Regions from separate parts of the Homo sapiens genome. Here all the other regions are reported to be linked to region 3. The links are microRNA targets in miRTarBase. Many come from high-throughput screens and were not tested one by one. Region 3 holds a microRNA gene; each other region holds the end of a gene's coding sequence.
What was found. The annotated mature microRNA hsa-miR-4510 reads UGAGGGAGUAGGAUGUAUGGUU and lies in region 3 at 5,101-5,122, shown strand. An mRNA with a match to its seed (bases 2 to 7 or 8) in the 3' UTR can be bound and repressed. Matches are read on the target gene's strand: a 7mer-m8 pairs with bases 2 to 8, a 7mer-A1 pairs with bases 2 to 7 and ends in A, and an 8mer does both.

Region 1: miRTarBase lists TMPRSS5 as a target of hsa-miR-4510. Seed matches in the 3' UTR shown: 7mer-m8 at 1,040-1,046.
Region 2: miRTarBase lists TRIM67 as a target of hsa-miR-4510. Seed matches in the 3' UTR shown: 7mer-m8 at 1,750-1,756, 7mer-m8 at 1,754-1,760, 7mer-m8 at 1,885-1,891, 7mer-m8 at 2,465-2,471, 7mer-m8 at 3,531-3,537, 7mer-m8 at 4,481-4,487 and 1 more.

Annotation. Positions count from the first base shown.
Region 1 is chr11:113,681,561-113,688,756 of GRCh38, reverse strand. TMPRSS5 (transmembrane serine protease 5) reads left to right here. Exons shown (of 13, transcript NM_030770.4): 13 at 483-1,207. The coding sequence ends at 497. It overlaps LOC107984390 (a long non-coding RNA gene), which reads left to right and starts at 2,247. Exons shown (of 3, transcript XR_001748391.2): 1 at 2,247-7,196.
Region 2 is chr1:231,214,389-231,221,584 of GRCh38, forward strand. TRIM67 (tripartite motif containing 67) reads left to right here. Exons shown (of 10, transcript NM_001004342.5): 10 at 987-7,177. The coding sequence ends at 1,052. Among named protein-coding and RNA genes, the nearest start is that of FSAF1, 23 kb to the right of the region's middle. RefSeq lists enhancers at 573-1,074, 988-1,097, 2,789-3,288, 6,439-6,939 and a silencer at 2,198-2,257.
Region 3 is chr15:35,921,763-35,928,958 of GRCh38, forward strand. It overlaps MIR4510 (microRNA 4510), which reads left to right and starts at 5,094; the gene lies at 5,094-5,161. All of the region lies in intron 1 of LOC105370766 (a long non-coding RNA gene), which reads left to right.

The sequences.
Region 1 (7,196 bases), not on the chromosome of region 3:
ACCCTGTCTATACTAAAAATACAAAAGTTAGCTGGGCATGGTGGCACGCACCCAGCTACTTGGGAGGTTGAGGCAGGAGAATCGCTTAAACCTGGGAGGCGGAGGTTCCAGTGAGCTGAGATCGTGCCACTGCACTCCAGGCTGGGCGACAGAGCAGGACTCTGTCTCAAAAACAAAACAAAACAAAAACATTATTTACCTAAAGTATTTTACAAATTTAGGGCATGATCATGAAAAGCATCTTCCTCTAAGGTTGGGCAGGGGTGGGGGTTGGTAGATAATACATTCGGAGTTTACAGGGAATGTATGTATTGATCTTCTCAAAGAAATCTTACAAAAAATCTTGAGCAGCAGATATTTTTAGCCTCATTTGATAGAAGTGAAAATCAAGGCCCTGCATGGTTAAGTGATTTACTAAAATAAAAGTCGCTTGGCTAGTGTAGAGCCATGCTGTGAATCAGTTCCTTTCCCTTTTGGTCTAGGACTCCCTCCTCTGAGTCCTGCTGTTTCCTCCAGTCTCACTGCACACCACTGCCTCATGCTTCCTGGGGCCTCCAGCAGCTCCACTAATGGAGGAGAGGCAGTAGCCTCCGACACAGAACGCATGGACCTCCTACTACTGTGTGTGAGGAACAGTCACTACCCACTGGCCAGCCACCCAGCCAACAGGTCTCTCCTCTTGGGCCCTGATTTCAGAGTCCTCTTTCTCACTAGAGACTCAATGACAGAAGAGAGGCTGGGACTTGGTTGGGCATGCTGTGGTTGCTGAGGGATGAGGGGGAGGAGAGAGGTAGGAGCTGGAGATGAAGAGGCTGCTAGAAGCAGCAGGAAGCCTGCCCTTCTGCCCTCTCCCCTCCCTGCCCCTGTGTGAGTCTTTTGGGAGGGTGCTGGGAGGTGCCCCCCGTCCCACCTTTTTCCTGTGCTCTAGGTGGGCTAAGTGCCTCCCTAGAGGACTCCATGGCTGAGAGGCTCCTGGGCAGATGGGGTCAAGGCTGGGCCAGCCCAGATGAAGCCTATGGGAGTCAGGACCCTCTCCACTCTCCCTCTCCACTCCCCTTCCTGTTCTCACCTGGCTGTGGCTGGCCCTGTGTGGGGTGGGTACACTGGAAAACAAGAAGGTTGGAGTTGGTCTAGGACATTGGTTTTAAATGACAGTTCTGTGAACTGGTCCAAGGAGTTCTGTTATTAAAGTGATATATGGTCTTGGTCCAGTTTTCTCTGTCTCCTCTCTCTCACTCGCACAAAGACAGACAGACAGACAGACAGACACAAACACATATTACAGGGTAGAATTACAATTTTCCTTCTATCTTCTATACATATTGAAGCTTTGGTGCTGACTCCTGTTCATCTACTTGAGAATTTTGGTTTGTGCTTATTTGTTTTGCCCAGGCTGGAGTGCAGTGGCACCATCTCTGCTCACTGCAGCCTCGATGTTGTGGGCTCAGTGCCTGCCACCTCAACCTCTCTGGTAGCTGGGACTACAGGTGCATGCCACCACACACGGCTAATTCTTCTTTTGTATCTTTTGTAGAAATGGGGTTTGTTTAATTCTTTAAATTTGTTAAATCTATATGTTGGCTGGGCGCGGTGGCTCACCCCTGTAATCCCAGCACTTTGGGAGGCCGAGGCCGGCAGATCACGAGGTCAGGAGATCGAGACCATCCTGGCTAACACAGTGAAACCCCATCTGTACTAAAAATACAAAAAATTAGCCAGGCATGGTGGCGGGCGCCTTGTAGTCCCAGCTACTCGGGAGGCTGAGGCAGGAGAATGGCGTGAACCTGGGAGGCAGAGATGGCAGTGAGCCGAGCCGCACTCCAGCCTGGGTGACAGAGTGAGACTCTGTCTCAAAAAAAAAAAAAAAAAAATCTACATGTCATGATCTGCAATGAAAAGCCTTAGCCATCCAGGTGCTCTGAGATCTTGAGTCTGAGAAGCACTTAAGTCAATGCTCTCTTGGGAAGGTCTGGTTTCCCTGCAAGGCCCATCTCTCCTTCTCTCTCCCCTTTTTTTTTTTTTTTTTTTTTTTTTGAGACGAAGTCTTGCTCTGTCACTCAGGCCGGAGTGCAGTGGTGCCATCTTGGCTCACTGCAACCTCTGCCTCCCGGGTTCAGGCAATTCTCCTGCCTCAGCCTCCCGAGCAGCGGGGATTACAGGCATACTGCAGCCACCATGCCTGGTTAATTTTTTGTATTTTTAGTACAGACGGGATTTCACCACGTTGGCCAGGCTGGTCTCGAACTCCTGACCTCAGGTGATCCATCTGCCTCGCCCTCCCAAAGTGCTGGTATTACAGGTGTGAGCCACCGCACCTGGACCCATCTCTCCTTCTTAGCTCTTGTTTTGGAACTGGGCCTTTGACTTGGCCTCTCTTTTTGAGTTTTATGCCCAGTTAGCATTTCCTTGGGTAAGCCTCTCCCCAACTCTCTCCTCTCTAGCAGTTAAAATGTGACTGGCATCTTCTTTCTAAAAACTGCAGTGAATTTTTTATGGTGCTTACCCAAGGAAATGCAACTAGTGTTTAGCAATAACAGAACTTTGTGAGTTTATCAGCATATTTTTTGAGGAGTTGTACAAATGATTACTCATTTCTAGAGGGTCTGCTCCCTTTACATGAAGTGCACTAGAAAATGAAGGTTTCAATTTACTGCCAGTTTATTAACCAGGGAAGTAGTTGCTGGGAGTCTGCTGTCAAACTGTAGAAGCAACGTGGGAGAAGTTCTGCTGAATGGCAAAATAGCCTCGCCCTGTGTCCCTGGAGGTCAGACCTTCAGCCTCTACCCTGGGATCAACATTTACTGCCCAGCTCCCTTAAGTCCCTGCCTCAGGAGGCACTGATGGGGTAGTAGATCCCCCTGGGCAGGGATAAGTTAACAGCAAATCCAGCAGCTGTGATCTTTTTTGTGTTTCTGATGTCAATCATAATCATTTGCATATTTAAAGGGAAGTTTAAAAAAATTACAGCCATCAAGGTCTTTCAATACTCAGTAACATTTGAATAGTGTTTTACAGTTTAGAAAACATGCCCATATGTGGGAGCTCACAAATCTATGTGGTGCAGATGTTATTATTATTGTCCTCATTTTCCAGATAAGAAAATTAATTCAGAGAGATTAAGTGACTCCCCCAAGACCACCCAGCTGGTAAGCACTAGAGCCAGGATGTCAACCGTGGGTCTTTTTACTCTAAATCCACATTACTGTCATGCACATGAATGAATGAGATGGTCCAGTATTGCACAGAAGAATAGAATTGGAAGGTACTTGCTCAGGTCACCTGGTGTAAGTCACCTGCTTATAGTAATGCCTTGGCACACCTACCTTTTTTTTTTTTTTTTTGAGACAATCTTACTCTGTCACCCAGGCTAGAGTGCAGTGGCATGATCTTGGTTCACTGCAATTTCTGCCTCCCAGGTTCAAGCGATTCTCATGCCTCAGCCTCCTGAGTGGCTGGGACTACAGGTGTGCACCACCAAGCCTGGCTAATTTTTTTTGTACTTTTTTTTTTAGTAGAGATGGGGTTTCGCCATGTTGGCCAGGCTGGTCTTGAATTCCTGGCCTCAAGCGATCCACCTGCCTTGGTCTCCCAAAGTGCTGGGATTACAGCCGTGAGCCACCACACCCGGCCTCCCACACCTACTTTTTTATAGATGAAGGAACCAAAACCCAGGAATTTAAGAGGCTCCTGCCAAAGACCCTTCTCAACAATATTCTTAGAAATTTTCAGTTCTCCCTGAGATTCACGGTCTTGACTAAAACTTACAAATGAATATCTCCTATAGGAGAGCTATAAAGGGTACCCTAATTAGAGAATTTGCTAATAAAGATTCCTTGCTTACCTATACAGAAGTTCTTGTTCTCTTTGGCCAGGCTACCAGTCAGATCTGCAGATGCAGAATCTCTCACTTTCCTTATTAGCATCTGCCAGTCCAGCTCTTTGGAAAGGGAAGGGAAGCGAGTGGCCTGGCCAGCTCCGTTCCCCTGAGCCTGCTCCTGGAATGAAGGGGTGGAGGTGGGGCCAGGAAGGTTGGGAAGATTCGGGTTCAGAAGGGCCTTAATGAGGACCAGCTGGGTTCCCAGCTATCTTAAGCTCTGTAGGGAATTCGGAGGTAGAAAAGCCGACTGTCTTATTGGAGAAATGAGACTTATTTGCAATAAATTACTAGTAGCCAGCCAGGCAGAGAGCTGAGTGGGGAGGTAGTAATTGCTCAGGGAGTTCCAAGAGCCTGTTGTTACAGAAGTCAGAGTAATTCTGTATGTGGGAAACCTCTGCCTTCCTCCGGTAGGATTCAGCATCCCACCTGCTTGGGCAGAGCTTTCGAGCCTCCTGAGATGTTCCAAGAGGGTCATTCCTGGCTGCCATGATGGGTGCAGATCCCTTCCCTCTTCTTCTGTGTGCTTGTGGGGTCTCAAGGATGCTAGAGGGTTCAGCATCCCTCTAGCATCAGATTCAGGTTCTCCCCTCCTGACACCTTCTGTGGAGTCGTGCTTTTCCTAAAAGGGTTTCTGGGAACAAGGGGCGGCCCTGCCATTCCTCAGGAACATTTCTCAGGCTCTTTCTTATATTTTCTTTTTGGAGGTGCTTGGCTCACCCACAATAGGACAAAACTGGAAATGCTATAAATGCTTAGAACTGGTTTGGTAGCTGTCAGATGTTTTCCCAAGTCCCTCTGATGCTTCTTCTCTCCTCTCTACTCTGCCGTCTCCTGGCCATGCTCTCAGGACCCTCTTGCTGCTCCACAGCTACTCAAAGGAAAACCTACCTTCACCTGCCCCCACTTTCCAGTCCAGCATCCTGGGCCTGAGCCCCATCTATACCTCCCTAGCAGACATGCTGCAGTGAACACTCAGGGTGTGCCGCACCCTCAGGACTCTGTTTCCTACTAAACTAATCAGAGCCAGGTGTTGTTAATGACTTTTTCAACTGTGTGTTAAATCCCTCCACCTCTAGGCAGGTTCGTAAGGAAGTAGGTAGGCAGCAGCTTCCTACTCCTGAGGGCTGAGGCTGGTCTCTCTCATACATTCAAGGCTGGGAAAGAGAGAGGCCAAGCAGGCCTGCCTGCTCGGAGTCTCCCCAGGGTGGAGCACTCCAGGGGGATCTGTGGAGGCTTTCACCTGGAGGTGGTGCTGGAGGGAACCAAGCTGGGGAATCAAACAGAATGGAGAGAGAAATCGTGGCTGCAGAGGCACAGAGTCCTTGCTACTTAGCCTCTCCCAGAACAGCACGTGGGCTCCAGGAAGGCAGAGACTTGCAAAAGGCTGGCATCATCTCGGAGCTTTCTCCCTTCCAAGGAACCTCTGGCTGTGACATCTGATAGTAGGAAACAATGGTTCTAGATGCAGAGTCCCATCACATCCCACGTGGGAATGTGCTGCTCGAGCAGGTGACTCAGTCTCCCTGGATTTTGGTCTCTCATCTGTCAACTTAGAAGTCTGGGCAAGATGGTCTCCACGGGATCTGCCTTGTTAGACCAGCTTTAACTCAAACTTCTTTTGCCTCTTGAGATGTCTGCCCACCACTTCCAGTTTGGATAACCTTTAGGAGCAGCCTGTTCCCTGGGACAGATCTACAGAAGTCAGCTTGCTATAGCTTCACAGCACTGCAAGGCTGCCGTCCCTGGGAGCCCTCTGGGTCCATGGGAGCAATAGAAACTGGGCAAAAGACTTGGAAGGCAGCTTTCGCCATGTTGCTGTACCTAGCATTTGTACCCTGGGCAAGGATTCAAGGAAAGGTTGAGCCCCTCAATCTGGCAGTTTTTTAGGTGCTCTCCAGCTCACTTTCTGATACCCCAGGCTCTGTCTGAAGCCTCATGGGCCCCAGCTCCGCAAAGGCAGCCAAAGGAATTTCCTCTCTACCACGAAGACCGTGAACGCTTTCCTTCTTTCTGTTTTCCTTGACAGCTCCTAAGCTGGCCATGAGGACCCACTCCTTCCTCCAGCCTTTCTTCATGCCTAGAATAGTGAGGAAAGTTGTGGGTTAGCAGAACCGCTAGAAAACATCTGGGATCCAAACCCTGCTCTGGACCCAGCCACATGCCAGGCTCAGGGAGGGAGGATCGGTTTTCCCACAGCCCCTCTGTTAGGGTGACCCATCTTCCAAGTTGGCCCAGGACTGTCCTGGTTTTAGCACTGAAAAGCTTATGTCCTGGGAAACTTTTCAGTCCTGGACAAACTAGGACAGTGGCTCACCCTAAGTCTAATGCATCTCTTCTGTATAAATGGAGTTCTGCAAAATTCAGTGCATCCCCGAATCCTACTATCCTTCCTCAGTTTGAGGAAGCACTCCCTGGTGCACAGAGTTGGAGGAGGAAGGTCCTGGGAATTCTCAAGGTCTGAACTGTTTTGCAAAGGCTGTGACACCAGCAGATGCTGCCTTGCCCTGGAGGCCCTTAAGGAGAGAGCCCCTCCTTCCTCAGGGCCTGCAGCTTCCCTGGTTGCCACTTCCCTGTGGTAGCTTCTGAGCCTGCAGCCAGGGCAGCCCTCCCTCACCTTACCTAATGTTTTGCGCAAACAGCCTGGCCCTCCTAGGCCCAGAACTTCTCTGGCAATTTGCGGGAGGCTAGGAAGGTGAGTCAGGTGTAGTGTTACTCCGGCAAGCCATGCATATCGATGTCCCAGTTTCCCCTGGTCACTCTGATTTCTGGTTCCTAGAGCCCGGTGCGGGCTCAGCATGTTATAGGTGCTGGCTTCGAGTGGTTGAGCCCACTCAGGAGGAGGAAGAGAAGGGCCTGCCGCCCGTACGGGAGCTGGATGGGCTTCTTCTCCTGGCCTCTGCCTTCCAAAGATCATCAGAGAGGAGCAAAGAAGAGACTGCCAGACTGCCAGAGCCCACAGGGATTTTGTGGGGTTTGTTTTTCCTCAGCAGTCCCTGCAGAGGTGAGGACATGAATAAAAGAATGAGGGAAGATTTATTGTTCTCACTTCTTGGCAGTGAGCCTGTATTTGTATAGTGGATCCAGGAGGGGGCTGGAACAGTTGAGAGGACTGCTGAGGCCCAGGCAGAAAGTCAGACCTTGCAAAGTTTTCTGGAGGGACCCAGGTGGGTGGTGGAGGGCGAAGGTGAGGCTGGGAGGAGTGGATTTAGACCAACTCCTCCCCAACCATCAGGGGCCAGAGTGTCCCCACCAGCCACCAGCCTTTTCCCACATGAGGTGGGACAGTGAACAAAGTTTTGGGCTAGCAGAACCATCGGCA
Region 2 (7,196 bases), not on the chromosome of region 3:
TTTGTGGCCCTGAATATTGAGGAGTCTACATCAATCACTGATTGATCGATTCGATCCTCTACTCATTTGCAAAAGGGATTTGTGGCAACCTAAAAGATAGGCTTATGGCCGGGCGCGGTGGCTTACGCCTGTAATCCCAGCACTTTGGGAGGCCAAGGCAGGCGGATCACGAGGTCAGGAGATCGAGACCATCCTGGCTAACACGGTGAAACCCTGTCTCTACTAAAAATACAAAAAAAAAATAGCTGGGCATGGTAGCGGGTGCCTGTAGTCCCAGCTACTCAGGAGGCTGAGGTAGGAGAATGGCATGAACCCGGGAGGCGGAGCTTCCAGTGAGCCGAGATCGCACCACTGCACTCCAGCCTGGGTGATAGAGCGAGACTTCATCTCAAAAAAAAAAAAAAAAAAAAAAAAGATAGGCTTAGGCTTGGCCTGACATGGTGGCTCACGCCTGTAACTCCAGTACTTTGGGAGGCCATGGCAGGAGAATCGCTTGAGCCCAGAAGTTTGAGACCAGCCTGGGGAATGAACAAGACACCATCTCTACCAATGAACAGATAAGCTTTTTTTAATCCAAAAAATAAGAGGTTGGCTATAATTCCTCACAGTTAATAGAATGGGTTTAATAGGAAAGGAAAGAAGGTCATGGCTAGAAAGTAGACACAAATATGTAACCACGGGAGCCAGTGCGTGAGAGCCGTGCTCCTGTGATGGCGTCTACTTTGCCCAGCTGTGGCAGCTCTGGCAAAATGAGGAACCAGTCAGCTGGGTGATTCTTATTATGAGGAAAGAGGTGCAAACCAACATAGCCTTTAATTAGGAATACTGGGGGACGTAATATTCAACAGTCCACAGCAGCCCTGAGCTATTGCATGGATGGCCCTGGAGCCAGCAGGGGATCCTGCCGGTGTCTGCGGTGCTGTCAGAGCCCTCAGGGTCCCTGCGGCAGCCTCTCCCACCCTCACTTGCCCTGTCTTCTTTTCCAGGTCACCCTGCACACAGGATTGGAAGTGCCGACTAACCTGGGGCGGCCAAAGCTGTCAGGCAATTAGCCCCGCTCCAGCTCGGCACTGTGCCTGTGACAGTGACATTCACAGGCAAAACGCCCACCATTCTCACTAAGCTCAAATAACCCACAAAAGCAGGATATGCAAATCATGGGTGCAACCTGGCAGCGTGGAGTGTCATAGAAACACATTTTCTTGGGGACGCAGGGAATGGGTCCACGGGCCATGCTCACAGCTGCCACTGTCAGTGGCAAAGGAAGGTACGTGTGTCACCCTTATTCCACCCAGACATTACGAACACTCCCCAAGAAGGACCTTTCTCAAGGGAGTCAGCATTCGGGCTTCATGTCTATGTTTCCTGCCATCTGTTTTCAAAGCTTGTCTTTTTTTGGAGGGAGAGGAAGGTAGACTTTGAGACTGGCCTCCTGAGAGCGGCAGTCAGGAGCTGCGCTGTAATCCCACGCCCCGGGTGTTGGCCCTCCGTGGGGACCTTGCCTCCTCAGAGTCCCGAGATTGCAGATTCTCATCATGCTGAGAAAGTTATCTTTTAGCTTCTTGGTCCTAGAGTCTTTAGTAGCACCTGCCACTTGCAGACCCAATGCAGGATTGATAGAAAGGGACATTAATCATTCATGCTTGACTTTTGCCTCTCTCACTGAAGTGTTAGAACCTTTTAAAATGGCTTCCTTTATTAATCAGCCAATTGTGTTCTCTCTCTCTCTTCCTCCATCCTTCATTTCTTCTCCCTCCCTCCTTCTCTTTCTCTCTTCTTCTCTCTCTCCTTCCTTCCCTCCTTTGCTCTCTCTTTCTTCCTTTCCTCCTTCTCTCTTACTTTCCTCCATCCCTGCCTCTTTCTTCCCTCTTTCGCTCTCTTTCCCTCCCTCCTTCTCTCTCTCTCTCACACACACACAGGCATGACAGTCTCCTAAAATTAATTCACTCAGTTCTTAGTTCTTAAATCCACGTGAAAACACAAGAATTTTAACAACTATGTCATAGGTCTTCGCCTGGTGATGGCTCCTTTCTGAAACTGGCAGCCCAAGAAGTTAACTGAAAATGCATCCAGATTGCTCTTCTGAGCTGAACCACTCTCAGACTCATAAGCATTTAAAATGGGAGACCCTGGGAAAGCCTGTTCTAGTCAGTCCACCCTATTGTCATTATGAAAGCATCATGAACACAAGTGGCCCCTGTGGCAGGCCGGGACGGCTCTGCCCTGATGCAGTGGGCGGGATCTCTGGGGAAGGCAGGAAATAGAAGGGCAGTATCAGGTACCTTGTCTCCCAGCTTCCCACTGTGAGACTGGGTGTGCCGAGTCTGACCTGCCAGGGCAGGACTCTGGAAACACCAGGCTTCTCCCTTGAGATCCACATTGATTCATCCACACCTCTCAGAGACAGCTCATGGCAGGGGTTTTGAGCCTGCCAGGCTCTTGTTCCCAGGGAACCCTTCCTCTCCTCCCTCCTCTCATCTTCCCAGTCACCTGCCACCTCCAGCTCCACCTGGTAGTAACATTTCTCTCTCCTTTTAAAAAGAATATATTTTGTCAAGCATTTTATTTCTGAGGCTGAGAAGTGACTTGTCAATTTGCTGGACTGGATTTTTATAAAATTCGCCCATTCACCAGCACCAACTGTGCGTCCTTGGTTCTGCCTTCCTGTTCAGACACCGCGCCTGCTTTCTGAGTAACTGCCTGCCGGAGCCATGCAGGTACCCCCCCTCCACTCAGCAGGCCCGACAATCCTACCTCAAAGCTCATGCTCTTGGTCTGCAAGGCTGCTTGGTCCGCTGTCTCTGCAGATGTGGCCGGCAAGGCCAGCTGCCCCGTCTCCAGGAGCTGCTCGGTGCTGTGTTGCAGTCTCTGCTGCGGAGCCTGGGAGCTATCTGCTTCATGGAAGTCTAGGTCTTGCCTCTTCCTTGTCATCTCACCAAGCGGTTTCTGGGTCTCCTCCTCCCATCCCAGAGCCCTGTCCAGAGCTCTTGGTGGTGACACACAAGACCTGGGACCCTGTGTCCTTGCCCGCACCTCTGCCTCTGTCTCCCATATCCCTGCAGCTTCATCCTTAGCCATAGCTCTGGGTGGCCTTTGCTTGGAGCATGGAGACGATCCCTAAAGATTGAGGATGAAGAGGAGCCACCACTTTCCTGGGGCCAAGGAAGCCATCAGCTTTGGGAAGTGTCTAGCTCTCTTCTGAAAAAAAAACAGGCCTACACCCTGCCCCCAGAATGAGAGTGGGCTAGGCAGGGCTGCCTGGTGACAGCAGCTTCTCACAGGGGAGCCCTGGGGAAGGCTGTGGAGCCTCCACCATCACCACAGCCCAGGTCACCAGGTGGCCCCAGCTCTGCAGAAGAATCGCCCATCATTGGAGCACAAGTTGCCTGGGGCTACCCTGAACCTAACCCCTTTGAGGGAGCAGCATCCAGGTCAGGAGAGAAGTGGAAAGTGCAGGAGGGTAATGCCCTCAAATCCGGTGGCCTCTTTCAGAAAAAAGTTCCCTGAAGTCCAGAGAGGTGCAGCCAGGACTCCCTCCTCCCCACTGCCACCCTGAGCTTGGGGGCTGGGATTCTCCCTTTTCTGACTCCTCCAGGAGCCCAGAAGCAATACGGCCGATGCCAGGGACAGCATCCAGCTCTCCTTCACAGACACCTCTCCTGTCTTCAGCACAAAACACCTTCAATGTTCTGACTTCAAAGAGAACGACAGGTCCGTGCCACACACTTGTGTTTTTGAGGGATCAGAAAAGTGAAGAAGGAACTTATCAATTCCTCATGGCCAGGAAGGTCCCGGGTTTCAGAGTAGAAATGACAGACAGGTCATGGAATTCTCATCCACCATCGAATTCCATAACACGTTACATCATGGTGGCACATTTGTACATACATATAAATGATATCAAGATGAGGCTTTTGTTGGGCTGGCTGAGGAGTAACTTGGTGTAAATCTATCAAGCAGTTTCAGTGAAAAAGGAATTCAAAGTAGTTTAAAAATGTCGAGTTCCATTGCATTGTAAATAGTGCCTCTGTAATGTGGTTCTGCAGTTGTTCTTTGCTAGTGAGCAAGCTTGGTCAAAGTGTATGCCTTTTCCTTTTAAAATTAATCTCTTCCGAAAATATCCACTAGCACCTCACTGCATACATAGCATCCCAGCTCCTAATTCAAAGCAGGGGAAGGTATTTCCCCAAAGCCTGCTTTTCCTCTCTCTGTTCTCCTTGGGAAAATAATGATTCCAATTAAAGAGGACACCAGTAATACTGACCCACAAGGTAACTGACCTAAACACTATAAAACTGTATATATTTCCAGGCTGCATCTTCAGCCTGATATGTACTTTGTAGTTGCAACAGCGCCCTAGGTGCCCTATGGCCCACCAAGTTTGAGGAGGGTGGTGCTTTCCGGATTGAGCCTGGGCAGGCTCTGTGGAGCTCACCAAGAGAGCTGGGGGCAGGCCCACCCTCCTCTTTGCGCCCTTTCTCTCCCTCTTGGTGCCCCTGCCCTCCGCCCCACCACAGCACTCTCAGGAAAGGATCAGAATGCAGGATCTTTGTGTATTTCTTCCAGGGATATTTGCATTTAAGCCTTAATTCTCATTGCAAGCGAAAGGCTTGGTCCCCCTGGGAAGGCGGGTTTCGGCACCGGTGGGCAGGTGGTTCAGTGTCAAGGAGGCTGCTGCTGGTCCCATGGCCACCTGCTGGCTTTGAGGTAGTGAGGGAGGGTCAATCCTTAGGGGGAGTCAACATGTGAATGCTAAAGAACACTGCTGCACAGCCCGTGGGGTGGCGCCAGGGTTTCTCAACCTCTACTGACATTTTGCGATAGGTTCTGTATGCCGTAGGATGTTTAGCAACATCCCTGGTCTCTACCCATCATCTGCCAGTAGCAACCCCCAAGTTAGGTGTGACAACCAAAAGTATCTGTCGACATTGCTAGGTATCTCCTGGGGGCCTCCACAAGTTGAGAACCACCAGGTTATGCCAGTGGTTTGTCATGCATGGATCTGTAGAGGGACTGTGGCGCTCCGGCTGCTTTGTTCCATAGAAAGCCTGTATGTGACAAAGCTGCCAGCCTTTATCTTGATACCCAAGCCCAGGATTTTCCATGTGTCTTCAGGGGGCAGGTAGGGGAAAATGGGGTGAGCCACCTCCAACAGATGCCAACCTGTTGGGTCTTGAATTTTCACTCACTGAAGATGCCCCCTGCCCGCTCCCCACTTCCTAGAAAGCAAAACTCGTTACCTTTGTTTTCCTTGGCCACATTTTACTGGAAGCAACAGGAACTTCTTAATGGGTTTGTGGCCCTCAATTGGTTTTTAAAAAAATCTAACAGATCTTATTGGCAAATATTCAAGATGGTGATGCTGGAAAATTTCAGGACTTTTCTTTTGCAAGTGAGCCGGTAGCTGTGTTTGTTGACCACATTCTTTGGCAGTTCCTCCCAGAAGATCAAAGGATCCTGCAGCTTTAACCTAATATCTAGGCTGTAAAAATATGAGGGCAGGTTTCGGGCAGGATGTATTGATCAGACACCAAGTTCAGCCCTCGGTTACTTCCCTCTTTTAACCTGGCTTTAATAGTGATTCATGGTATGAGTGGGGGCCAATCTCTTATCCTTTCTGTGCCTCAGTATCCCCACCTGAAATGAGACTAGTCATACTAACCTACCTCCTCTGATGTATTGTGAGGATTATACAATAACATTTTTAAAGAAAAAAAGTGCAGTCTTTCATCTCTGGCATCTAAGCTAATGATTCCCATTCAGTGACTCAAACCTGTGGGGGGCGTTCCAGTGTTCTCTGACCAGTGTCTTCCATCCAAGCCTCCTTGTGACCAGGGCAAGGAGCTGCCTGGCCTCCAGTGGGTAAAATAGACCTTTAAGACAGGTTTCCTATGACCATAGAAAGTAACACCCCATATGTTTCCATTCCCGGCGAGGCCTGTTTGAATGGCGCTCTGTGTGAGTGCTATGAACAGGCTACCTGTCAGCAGTCTCACTGCGAGGCCTCAAGGCCTCTGTGAGCAGAAGCCCCTTTAAACCAAGGAAGGACACTAACCCAGGCCTCTGCCTTCTTTGTTACCTAAGTTCTGGTATCTAAGGGGTCTCTCATCTCACAGCTTGCCTCCTTTGTTTCGAGGGGTCTCTGCAGTGTGAATGGGTTTGAAATCCAGTGTGGATAGCACGAAGAGATGCAACTGAGCCGAAGTTTTGAAGGCTGGTTGGGCTAGTGGGTCATCATGTCACTTTCAGATGACTGATAACCGCTGGGACTGCTGGGGCTTCACCAGCACGAGCTATGCAGGTTGGGGGAGGCCCTGGCTTTTTCAATGATTGACGTTGACATCAGTCAGGAGCTGGGAGTTGAGACCTCCAGGGAAGTCTCGTCCGGATCCATCGCTCTTCTCTCAAGGAGCACAGTCCTGGGAAAGGCCTAGGGACCTGTGGGCCGGTGATGCGGGCACTGCAGACCAGGCCAGGCCCTCGGGTAAAGCTCTGAGGAGAGGCCAAAACCAGGCTTCAGGTTCGGGAAGGTGACTGCTTGCAACTGCAGTAGCAGGAACATGTCAGGTGCTTACTGGGTGAGACCCAGCCGGGGAAGCCTCTCCAACTCCTCCTAGCCCTGGAAACCAGACACCCAGAGCCCCAGGCTTTCTCGGCACCCAGAAGAAGTGGGGAGCGGGCAAAGCAGAAAACATTCAATGCATGATGTAGGATTGCTGCGTTGGCACTAAGCTGTTGTATTAAGCATGAGAGGTGTTTGTTTAACGTTGGCAAAGGGATTTAACAAGAAACAAAAAGCTTCGCGTCCTTGTTTTGACCGTCGACAGAAGTCCAATTTTCTTGCCTTTCTTTATCCCCATTTCTCCTCCCTCCCCTTCCCCCATCACATCCACTTTCGGTCACTCGTTGTTGGTATTTGGTGGCAGCTCTTGGTCCTATTGCTGTGGATGTTCCACTGAAAACACGGGGGGTAGCGGGGAGTGGTAAGGAAAGCAACTTTTTTCTAATTTTTGTATTGGTATCCACAAGCGTTTGTATTTTTTGAATTGCAAACACTGTGTTTTCTGGTCTTTGGGGGTTAGTTGAACTTTCTGTATTACCTTTTGGAAAACCTGAGTTTTACCACAGTCTTAAGCAGATTTGAAATAAATTCTTTTGACACTGCCAACAACAGAAAGACAAGATGTGGTCTGTAA
Region 3 (7,196 bases):
CCAATGTCATGGCAACTAGTTAAGTTGGAGTATGGGGAGTAGATAGGGAAGACCAGGTAGACTGTTAACTTGGTATCACGTAGAGCCCTTTGATTAGCAGATTCTCTTCTCATATATCCCCTGCCCCTCTCCTTAGTAAAGCATAACTACATACATACATACATTTATATATAAATATATCAGCAAAACAAAGTAAAAATGTTTATGTATTATTAATATTGTCATCATGAAGATACCACATCAGGATGAGATATTGTGGAGGAGTAAACTTAAAATTTCTTATTATCGACAATATTTGTCATAAATTATTCTATTCATGGTTACTACATCAGTGGTATTACTATTCCCCCAAAATGATAAAGCAATTTACTAGTATTTCCTTGGAATTTTAAGATCAAAAGCTCTAGAGATGCATCTTTCTATTTTACCCGTGAAACTTAAGACAGCAAAAAGAATAACGAAACCAAAGGGTGACAGGCAAAGTTGGAAGCCTCAATGACAACTTTTATAATTTTTAGTTATAGCTCAGGAGAGAGATGGAACTTCTGCAAGATGGTATTTATAGATGAGAAGGCCAGGATATTTGTATTAGTAAGCTCAGAAAAGTATAGAAATATTCTAGAAGTCCCCTCTCTTCATCTGTCTGCTCATTACTTATTTTAGAAATAACAAATATCTATGATTTTGGCTGTGTAAATAAATGAGTAAGGGTTTGAAATCTTGTGATTCCAATATTTTTCACAATCCATTTGCACTATTTCAGGTAATTCCTTTCTTTATGTACAAGCAACCTCCACCACAGTGCCCTAAGGCACAATACGGTATAGCCATTCACACATGCACGGTCAACCTGGTTTCAGCCTATCAGAGCAAGATCAGGAAGGATTAGACAAATTTAGTTGTATACACTTACACAGGTTCAAAGCCAGTCTTATGCAGAGCTGGATAGGCAATTACCTATATGATGACATTTTATGTTACTACAGGACATAATGTCCAGGAAACAAAGGAATAGGAATTCTGTTTTTTGGTTACTGCCTTGGTTGAACATTAAAATTAGCATTGTTCTGTGCACTACCTTTGTTAATAAAAGTCCTAAGGAAGTTGTAATCATGGACATGTAGGACATTTGGGAAGTTTTGTGTAATGCAATAACTGAATGATTAGGGCAGGAGAAGGAATAATTACCAAATCCTTAATTTCTAGGCTGGTGGTACCCTTGATTTTACTTTTTGCAATTATATGTTTCAGAGAACATTGTTTAAACCATAGTGTTCAGATTTCTGTATTAAGATAAAAAAAGGGAAATTACATCTAGATGAGAATTGTAAGTAAGCATTAACTGTGAGTTATCATTTTCCTTACATTATCTCATTTGACTACTCAAACAATCTTACGAGATAGGTATTATCTCCATTGTTCAGATGAAAAGGTAGTCATAGAGATTAAATATTTATTAGAAGTCACACAACTAGTAAGCAGAAGTTGTGTGAACCTAGCTCTGTGGATGCAAAATAATGTACTGCTTTGCAAGACCTGTAGCATAATTTACTTATGTTCTATATGTGGGTAAAATTGTTACATTATCACTGGTAAAATACAAAACCAAATATAAAGAATAATTGCATTTTGATTTTTGGACCTGCCAAGACATACATCCTCAAACTCTTTTGCATCAGAAATGCCTGGGAGAATTGTTTTGTTTGTTTTGTAATTAAAATGCACCCTATTGTCTCTTCTTCCTTGATGATTGCCAAAAATTATAGTTTAAAAATACAACGAGGTGATATGAACATGTTTGAATGTTACCATTATATTTTTATTACACGTAAACAATACATTGTGTTTCCAAAATAATATACTCTAGAAAGTAAACTTTTCTTTCTTCTTTCCCATAAGTGACATCCTTCTGATATGCAGAGACTTTTAACTTGGGTACCAAACCATAATGGTACAAATAGAGGTATTTCAAGAAGTTGCTAAAATTGTTACATTGTAGAGCAGAATCTGATTTTGTGTACATGTTCCTACAGAAAATTCAGAACACATCTTAACCCCGTTATTCTTATTGTGTCACTTTAAAAGTTAGAGAATTGGTTTAGTAACAAACCTAGAAGTTTCCATCATATCCTCTTAAGCATCTGTGGTTCTTGCACTCAGCCATCTCAGCATGCTCATGCCAAAGCTCAAGACACGAGATCCTTCCAAATATGAAGAGTAAAATGAGGCTTATCACCTTCGTAAAGATTAATTATTTTTCAACCAATAAAACAGACTTTTTCTTTATCTAATGGGCTTCATCCATCATAGTACATGATAGATAGTTAATACTTTACTTTCAGGGAAACTGCAGCTTAGAGCAGTTTTACTAGTTCAGTTCAGACAGTGGTTTACCTCTAAACTTCTATAGCTAGGGCTAATAGTGTCTGATGAGCTCATCTGCCTGGAGAAAGAAAGAACAGACATAAGAAAGTGCTACCCCAAATACTTAAAATTGCCTTGCTGTGGATTTGAAACAACACAGGTTGTAAAAGCACAAAGTGCCAGACAGCTTACATACATCTTTTAGCACATTTCAAAGACAAAACAACATGTGCGGAATCAAAGGCAGGAAAATCATTATGTAAAATATCACCTTTCCCCAGTAAATGTTTTCTATTGAACTGCTGAAAATTCTTCTCAGTAAGGAAGATAGAAAGCCAGGGCAACCCCTCTGCAGGCACAGCAGAGTGAGGTCCACCCAAAAATTCTCCACTGCCATGGGCTGCAACCTTAAGACCCTGCATGACTTGTTAGAGATTTAGATTTATCTGGCTCTCTAGTGTCTTATTGCATAATTTCCATTACTTTATTACCCACCATTCGCCCTTCAATAGTTCTTTTCATGTGTTTTTTGTTGTGGCTTTGCTTATGTGGGACAGTCCATGTTACAAGTTTTCTCTATTATTTATATATGAAAGTCTCCTCATGAAAACACCATCATATATAGCAAAGCAAACTATATTAGAATTCCATAATAACATGGCTTTGTATAAATTCTGATACCCTCTTGGTCATAGTTATTCATAGGTCAAATGAAACAATGAACTAATTACACATTGATATACTAGACTGAGGCTGTGTTTCAACCAGGTTGACCTTGTCTGGGGAATACATGCAATCAGGGGCATGTAAGTCCCCTCTGAAATACAACTGAAGATGGTATGATCACCAATGATTGGAAAGGTAGGATCACTGGGAGAAGTCAAGGTTGAGTCTTGGATGTTACAACTAATGTCTATGATTTCCATAGTTCAGAATAAAACCAAGGATAGCGTATCAATCAGGACAACAATAGTCACTCCAGATAGGAGGAATTTTAATAGAGGGAGGTGCTGAGAAGCCAAACAAATGATAATAAGGCAACCCAGACATTACAGTAGCAAAAAGCCACTATCATCCCTATGTTTGAGAGTTAAAGGGAAAAGACTGTTATTGGATTGCCTGGCTCTGGGGCCACAGACAGAAGCCAAAACCATTTCAGGTCTGCCTGTCAGTAGCTTGAACCAGTAAGCAAAGGACACCTATCCAGATTTGCAGCCATAGAAGAGGTTGAAACCTGAGACTATCTGGTTTAAATTAACCTTTCTTGTTACTGGCAGCTACTAATAGATTGCACTTAATCAACTATCGCATCTCTCATAGAGAAGGAGTCATGACCATGTTTTCCTTATTTATTATGCCATCGTGCAGCGGAGAGTGACCCAGAGGTTTATTCTTCTTATGTGACAAGACTGATGAAATCAATCTCACACCATTTTACACTTGTATCTATTGTAATTTTTATACATATTAAAATAAATACCACACACCTGAATTAGGGTAAATGGCTTGCTTATTCGTCCTCTGAGGTGGGCTTTTGTTTTTCCTTACTAGAAAGTCTGAGCGTGTTTCGTTTCTCATATTTGTTTAAATAAAAAAGAAATTTTAATGATACCATGAATCCTCATGATCAGGGAAGAACGATGTGTCAGTTCACCTGATGACCTCACCAGCAAGTAACAGAAAACAAGCAAAATGACTCATACAATGAGGGCTTTGTTATCTTTATTGTCTGACAAGTCCTGTTGTATGTTCCAAGATCACTGACTTCAAGGGCTCAATGAATGGCTCAGGGATCCATTTCATTTCCACATTTTGTTCTGCCATCTTTGGAATGTTCGTGTTTGTCCTTACGTGGCCCCTCACATCCCCAAGTTACTCCAACCTTATATCCTCAACAATAACTTCCAGAGGTGAGAAGATAGACCATCTCTTCCTTATGTTCTTTCATAAAAGTCAGAAAAACTGTACTAGAAATCCACCCCAGACTTCCCCTCACATTTTACTGGACAGAATGACATTACATCATGGACAAGAGAATGGAATTTACATGAGTCATTTCAACCAGAGTTGATATGCACCTTCAGCTGAGAAGGGACTTAGTCTCCTTTGAAGGATATGGCCTACCAAGACTTGAACAAAATCAACTCTTACACAGCACTTACAACAAGGGAGGCACTATTCTAAGAGTTATTAAACATACATAAAGAGATATAGAAATGTGTATTAAATCATTTAATACAAAAATTATATGAGGTGGTTATTATCTATAACTTATCAAGATATTAAGTAACTTAAGGGCCAGGCACAGCGGCTCATGCCTATAATCCCAGTACTTTGGGAGGCAGTGGTGGGAAGATGGGTTGAGGCCAGGAGTTTGAGTCCATCCTGGGCAACATAGTGAAACCCCATATCTACAAAAAAAATTAAAAATTAACCAGGTGTGATTGTGTGGACCTGTAGTTCTAGCTACTCAAGAGGCTGAACCTGGAGGATCCTTCGAACCCAAGAGTTTGAGGGTGCAGTGAGCTATGGACATGCCAAAGCACTTCACCCTTGGTGAGACAGCAAGATAACCTTGTATTAAATAAATAAATTAATTAATTAATTAATTAATTAATTAATTAAGGTCACACTGTTATTCAGTAGTGACAGCAGGGTTGTAACTCAGGTGATCTGGCCCCAGAGTTGTTGCCTTTAAGATGAATACCAGGTTGCCTCTGTGGAATAGTGTGTATGTGAGGGAGTAGGATGTATGGTTGTTAGATAGACAACTACAATCTTTTCTCACAACAGACAGAGCCTGTCATTAAGTAGGCACTCAGAAATGTTCATGGAATAAGCAAAAAAAAAAAAAAAGAAGAAGAATGAATGAATGAATATACCCTTTGATAGCCTCCAATACAGTGTCTTGTATGTAATAGTCATTCAGTGGTTGCTTAGTTGATGGTGTCTCATTGTGTGTCTATTGCAGCACAATTTAAGTAGAGAATTTAGGATATGCTACAAACTGGTCTATCATTTTCCTTAAGATAAATGAGGGGTAATGCTCAGAGAGAGGGCAGTTACCCATGACTGAAGTGGGAGAGACTGACATTCAGGAGTTTGATTTGGGAAACCCTAGAATTCTAGGAAGTGATTGCTGTTTATAAAAATGCAAATTGGTCCTGTTTAAACTTGTCATTATAGAAAAACCTAGCAAGGCTCATATCCTATGCTAAACTCCGCTACAATCTCTATCCAGAAGATGTCTGACCATTTTATATTGTTTTCCAACCCTTTCTTGGTTTGTTCGCTGGAGAGAATCCATCTCATTTACCACAACTCCAAAATCCCCCTGTGTGGAACACAAGACACATCTATGTCCTGCTCACATTGTTTTCTTGAGAGCAGAGAGATGTCAATTGGCTTGGTCCTCTTTTATATGCAATTAGATACAGCTATCATATATTACCTTGTGACAGATATGCATTGTCTCATTCAATATTAAGTAGGGATCCACATGTAGCCATCCACAGTCGTAGACCTGGATATATCTTGTTTCTACTTGGAGAAATTCAATGAATGGCAACATGGATTTACAAATCAATATTAAGAGGTAATTATTCTGCTTACAAATAAATTTGTCAGCTTCCACATCTGTTAGCAGGTCAGAGATTATTTGAGTTCACATTAGAGTGAAATACATAGAAAAGAAACTTAAAGTTTGTATATTATAGAAGATCATTAGGAAATGCCTTCCTTTGACTCTAGAGCCAAAGGACTAATCTAACAATCAATGTCATCAATAACTTTCTCTACAGTATTTAATGTCAATTATTGATTCCCAGAAAAGCAAACCCTGTTCAAAATGTGTTATTTTGATTTATAAGCAATTCATTCACCATATTATTCTCCCTGACCCGCAGTAAGCAAATAGGCATCAAGCCCATGGTTTCCTAGTTATTAAGAATGATAATGTCTCTTACAGATTATCCAATCCAGACCTCTTGTTATATAGACACAGTTAGAAGGCCCAGTTACTATCCCAAGGCTACATAGCTAATAAAATATACAGCCAGAAGGAGAATTTTGGTCTAGAGCTCTTTCCTGTCCTCACAATTAAATAATCAATTTCTTTACATGTCAAAGTCACTACATCTTACAGTTCAGTGCTTACATAACTTTATACCATGCCTTAAATAATATTCCCAAAATACTTATTTGTATTCTTTATATCTGCTTTGATTCCAGAGTACAGAGAGCTCTTGGAGGATGTGATAGATCATATTTTCCAAAGATGGTCACAATATAATTTGCTACTTTACACACTCTTCTTCATTGTGATTTTGTCCTTACACCATTAGAAGTTTATTTTTCCAACCACTTTGAATCTGAGTAGGCCATGTGATTGCTCTATTCAATAATATACAACTGAGGTTCTGCATATGGCCCTTAAGTAGCCCAGCAACTCCTGATCCCTACATTTTGGAATATTTGCTCATAGGACATTTCTTCCAAGAACCCAGTCTCTGCAGTGAGAAGCAGGAACCATACAACAAAGCCGTGATTAGCTGCTCCAGCCTAGCTAAGCTTTCAAAAACTGACAGCTAGTATCAACTACCAGACATGTAAGCGTACCATATTGAACTTCTAGCCCAGCTGAGCTTTTGGGTGACTGCAGGCCTAGATGACAGCTGCCTGTAAGTGCTTGAGAGACCTCAGGTGAAAACCAACCAGTTGGGCACAATCAACCCCCTGGCCTTAAGAAATATTAAATAAGTTTTGTCTTAATTGCCTGAAGTTTTAAGGTGGTTTGTTAGACAGCAGTAGACAACTGGAACACAGCACTAGAC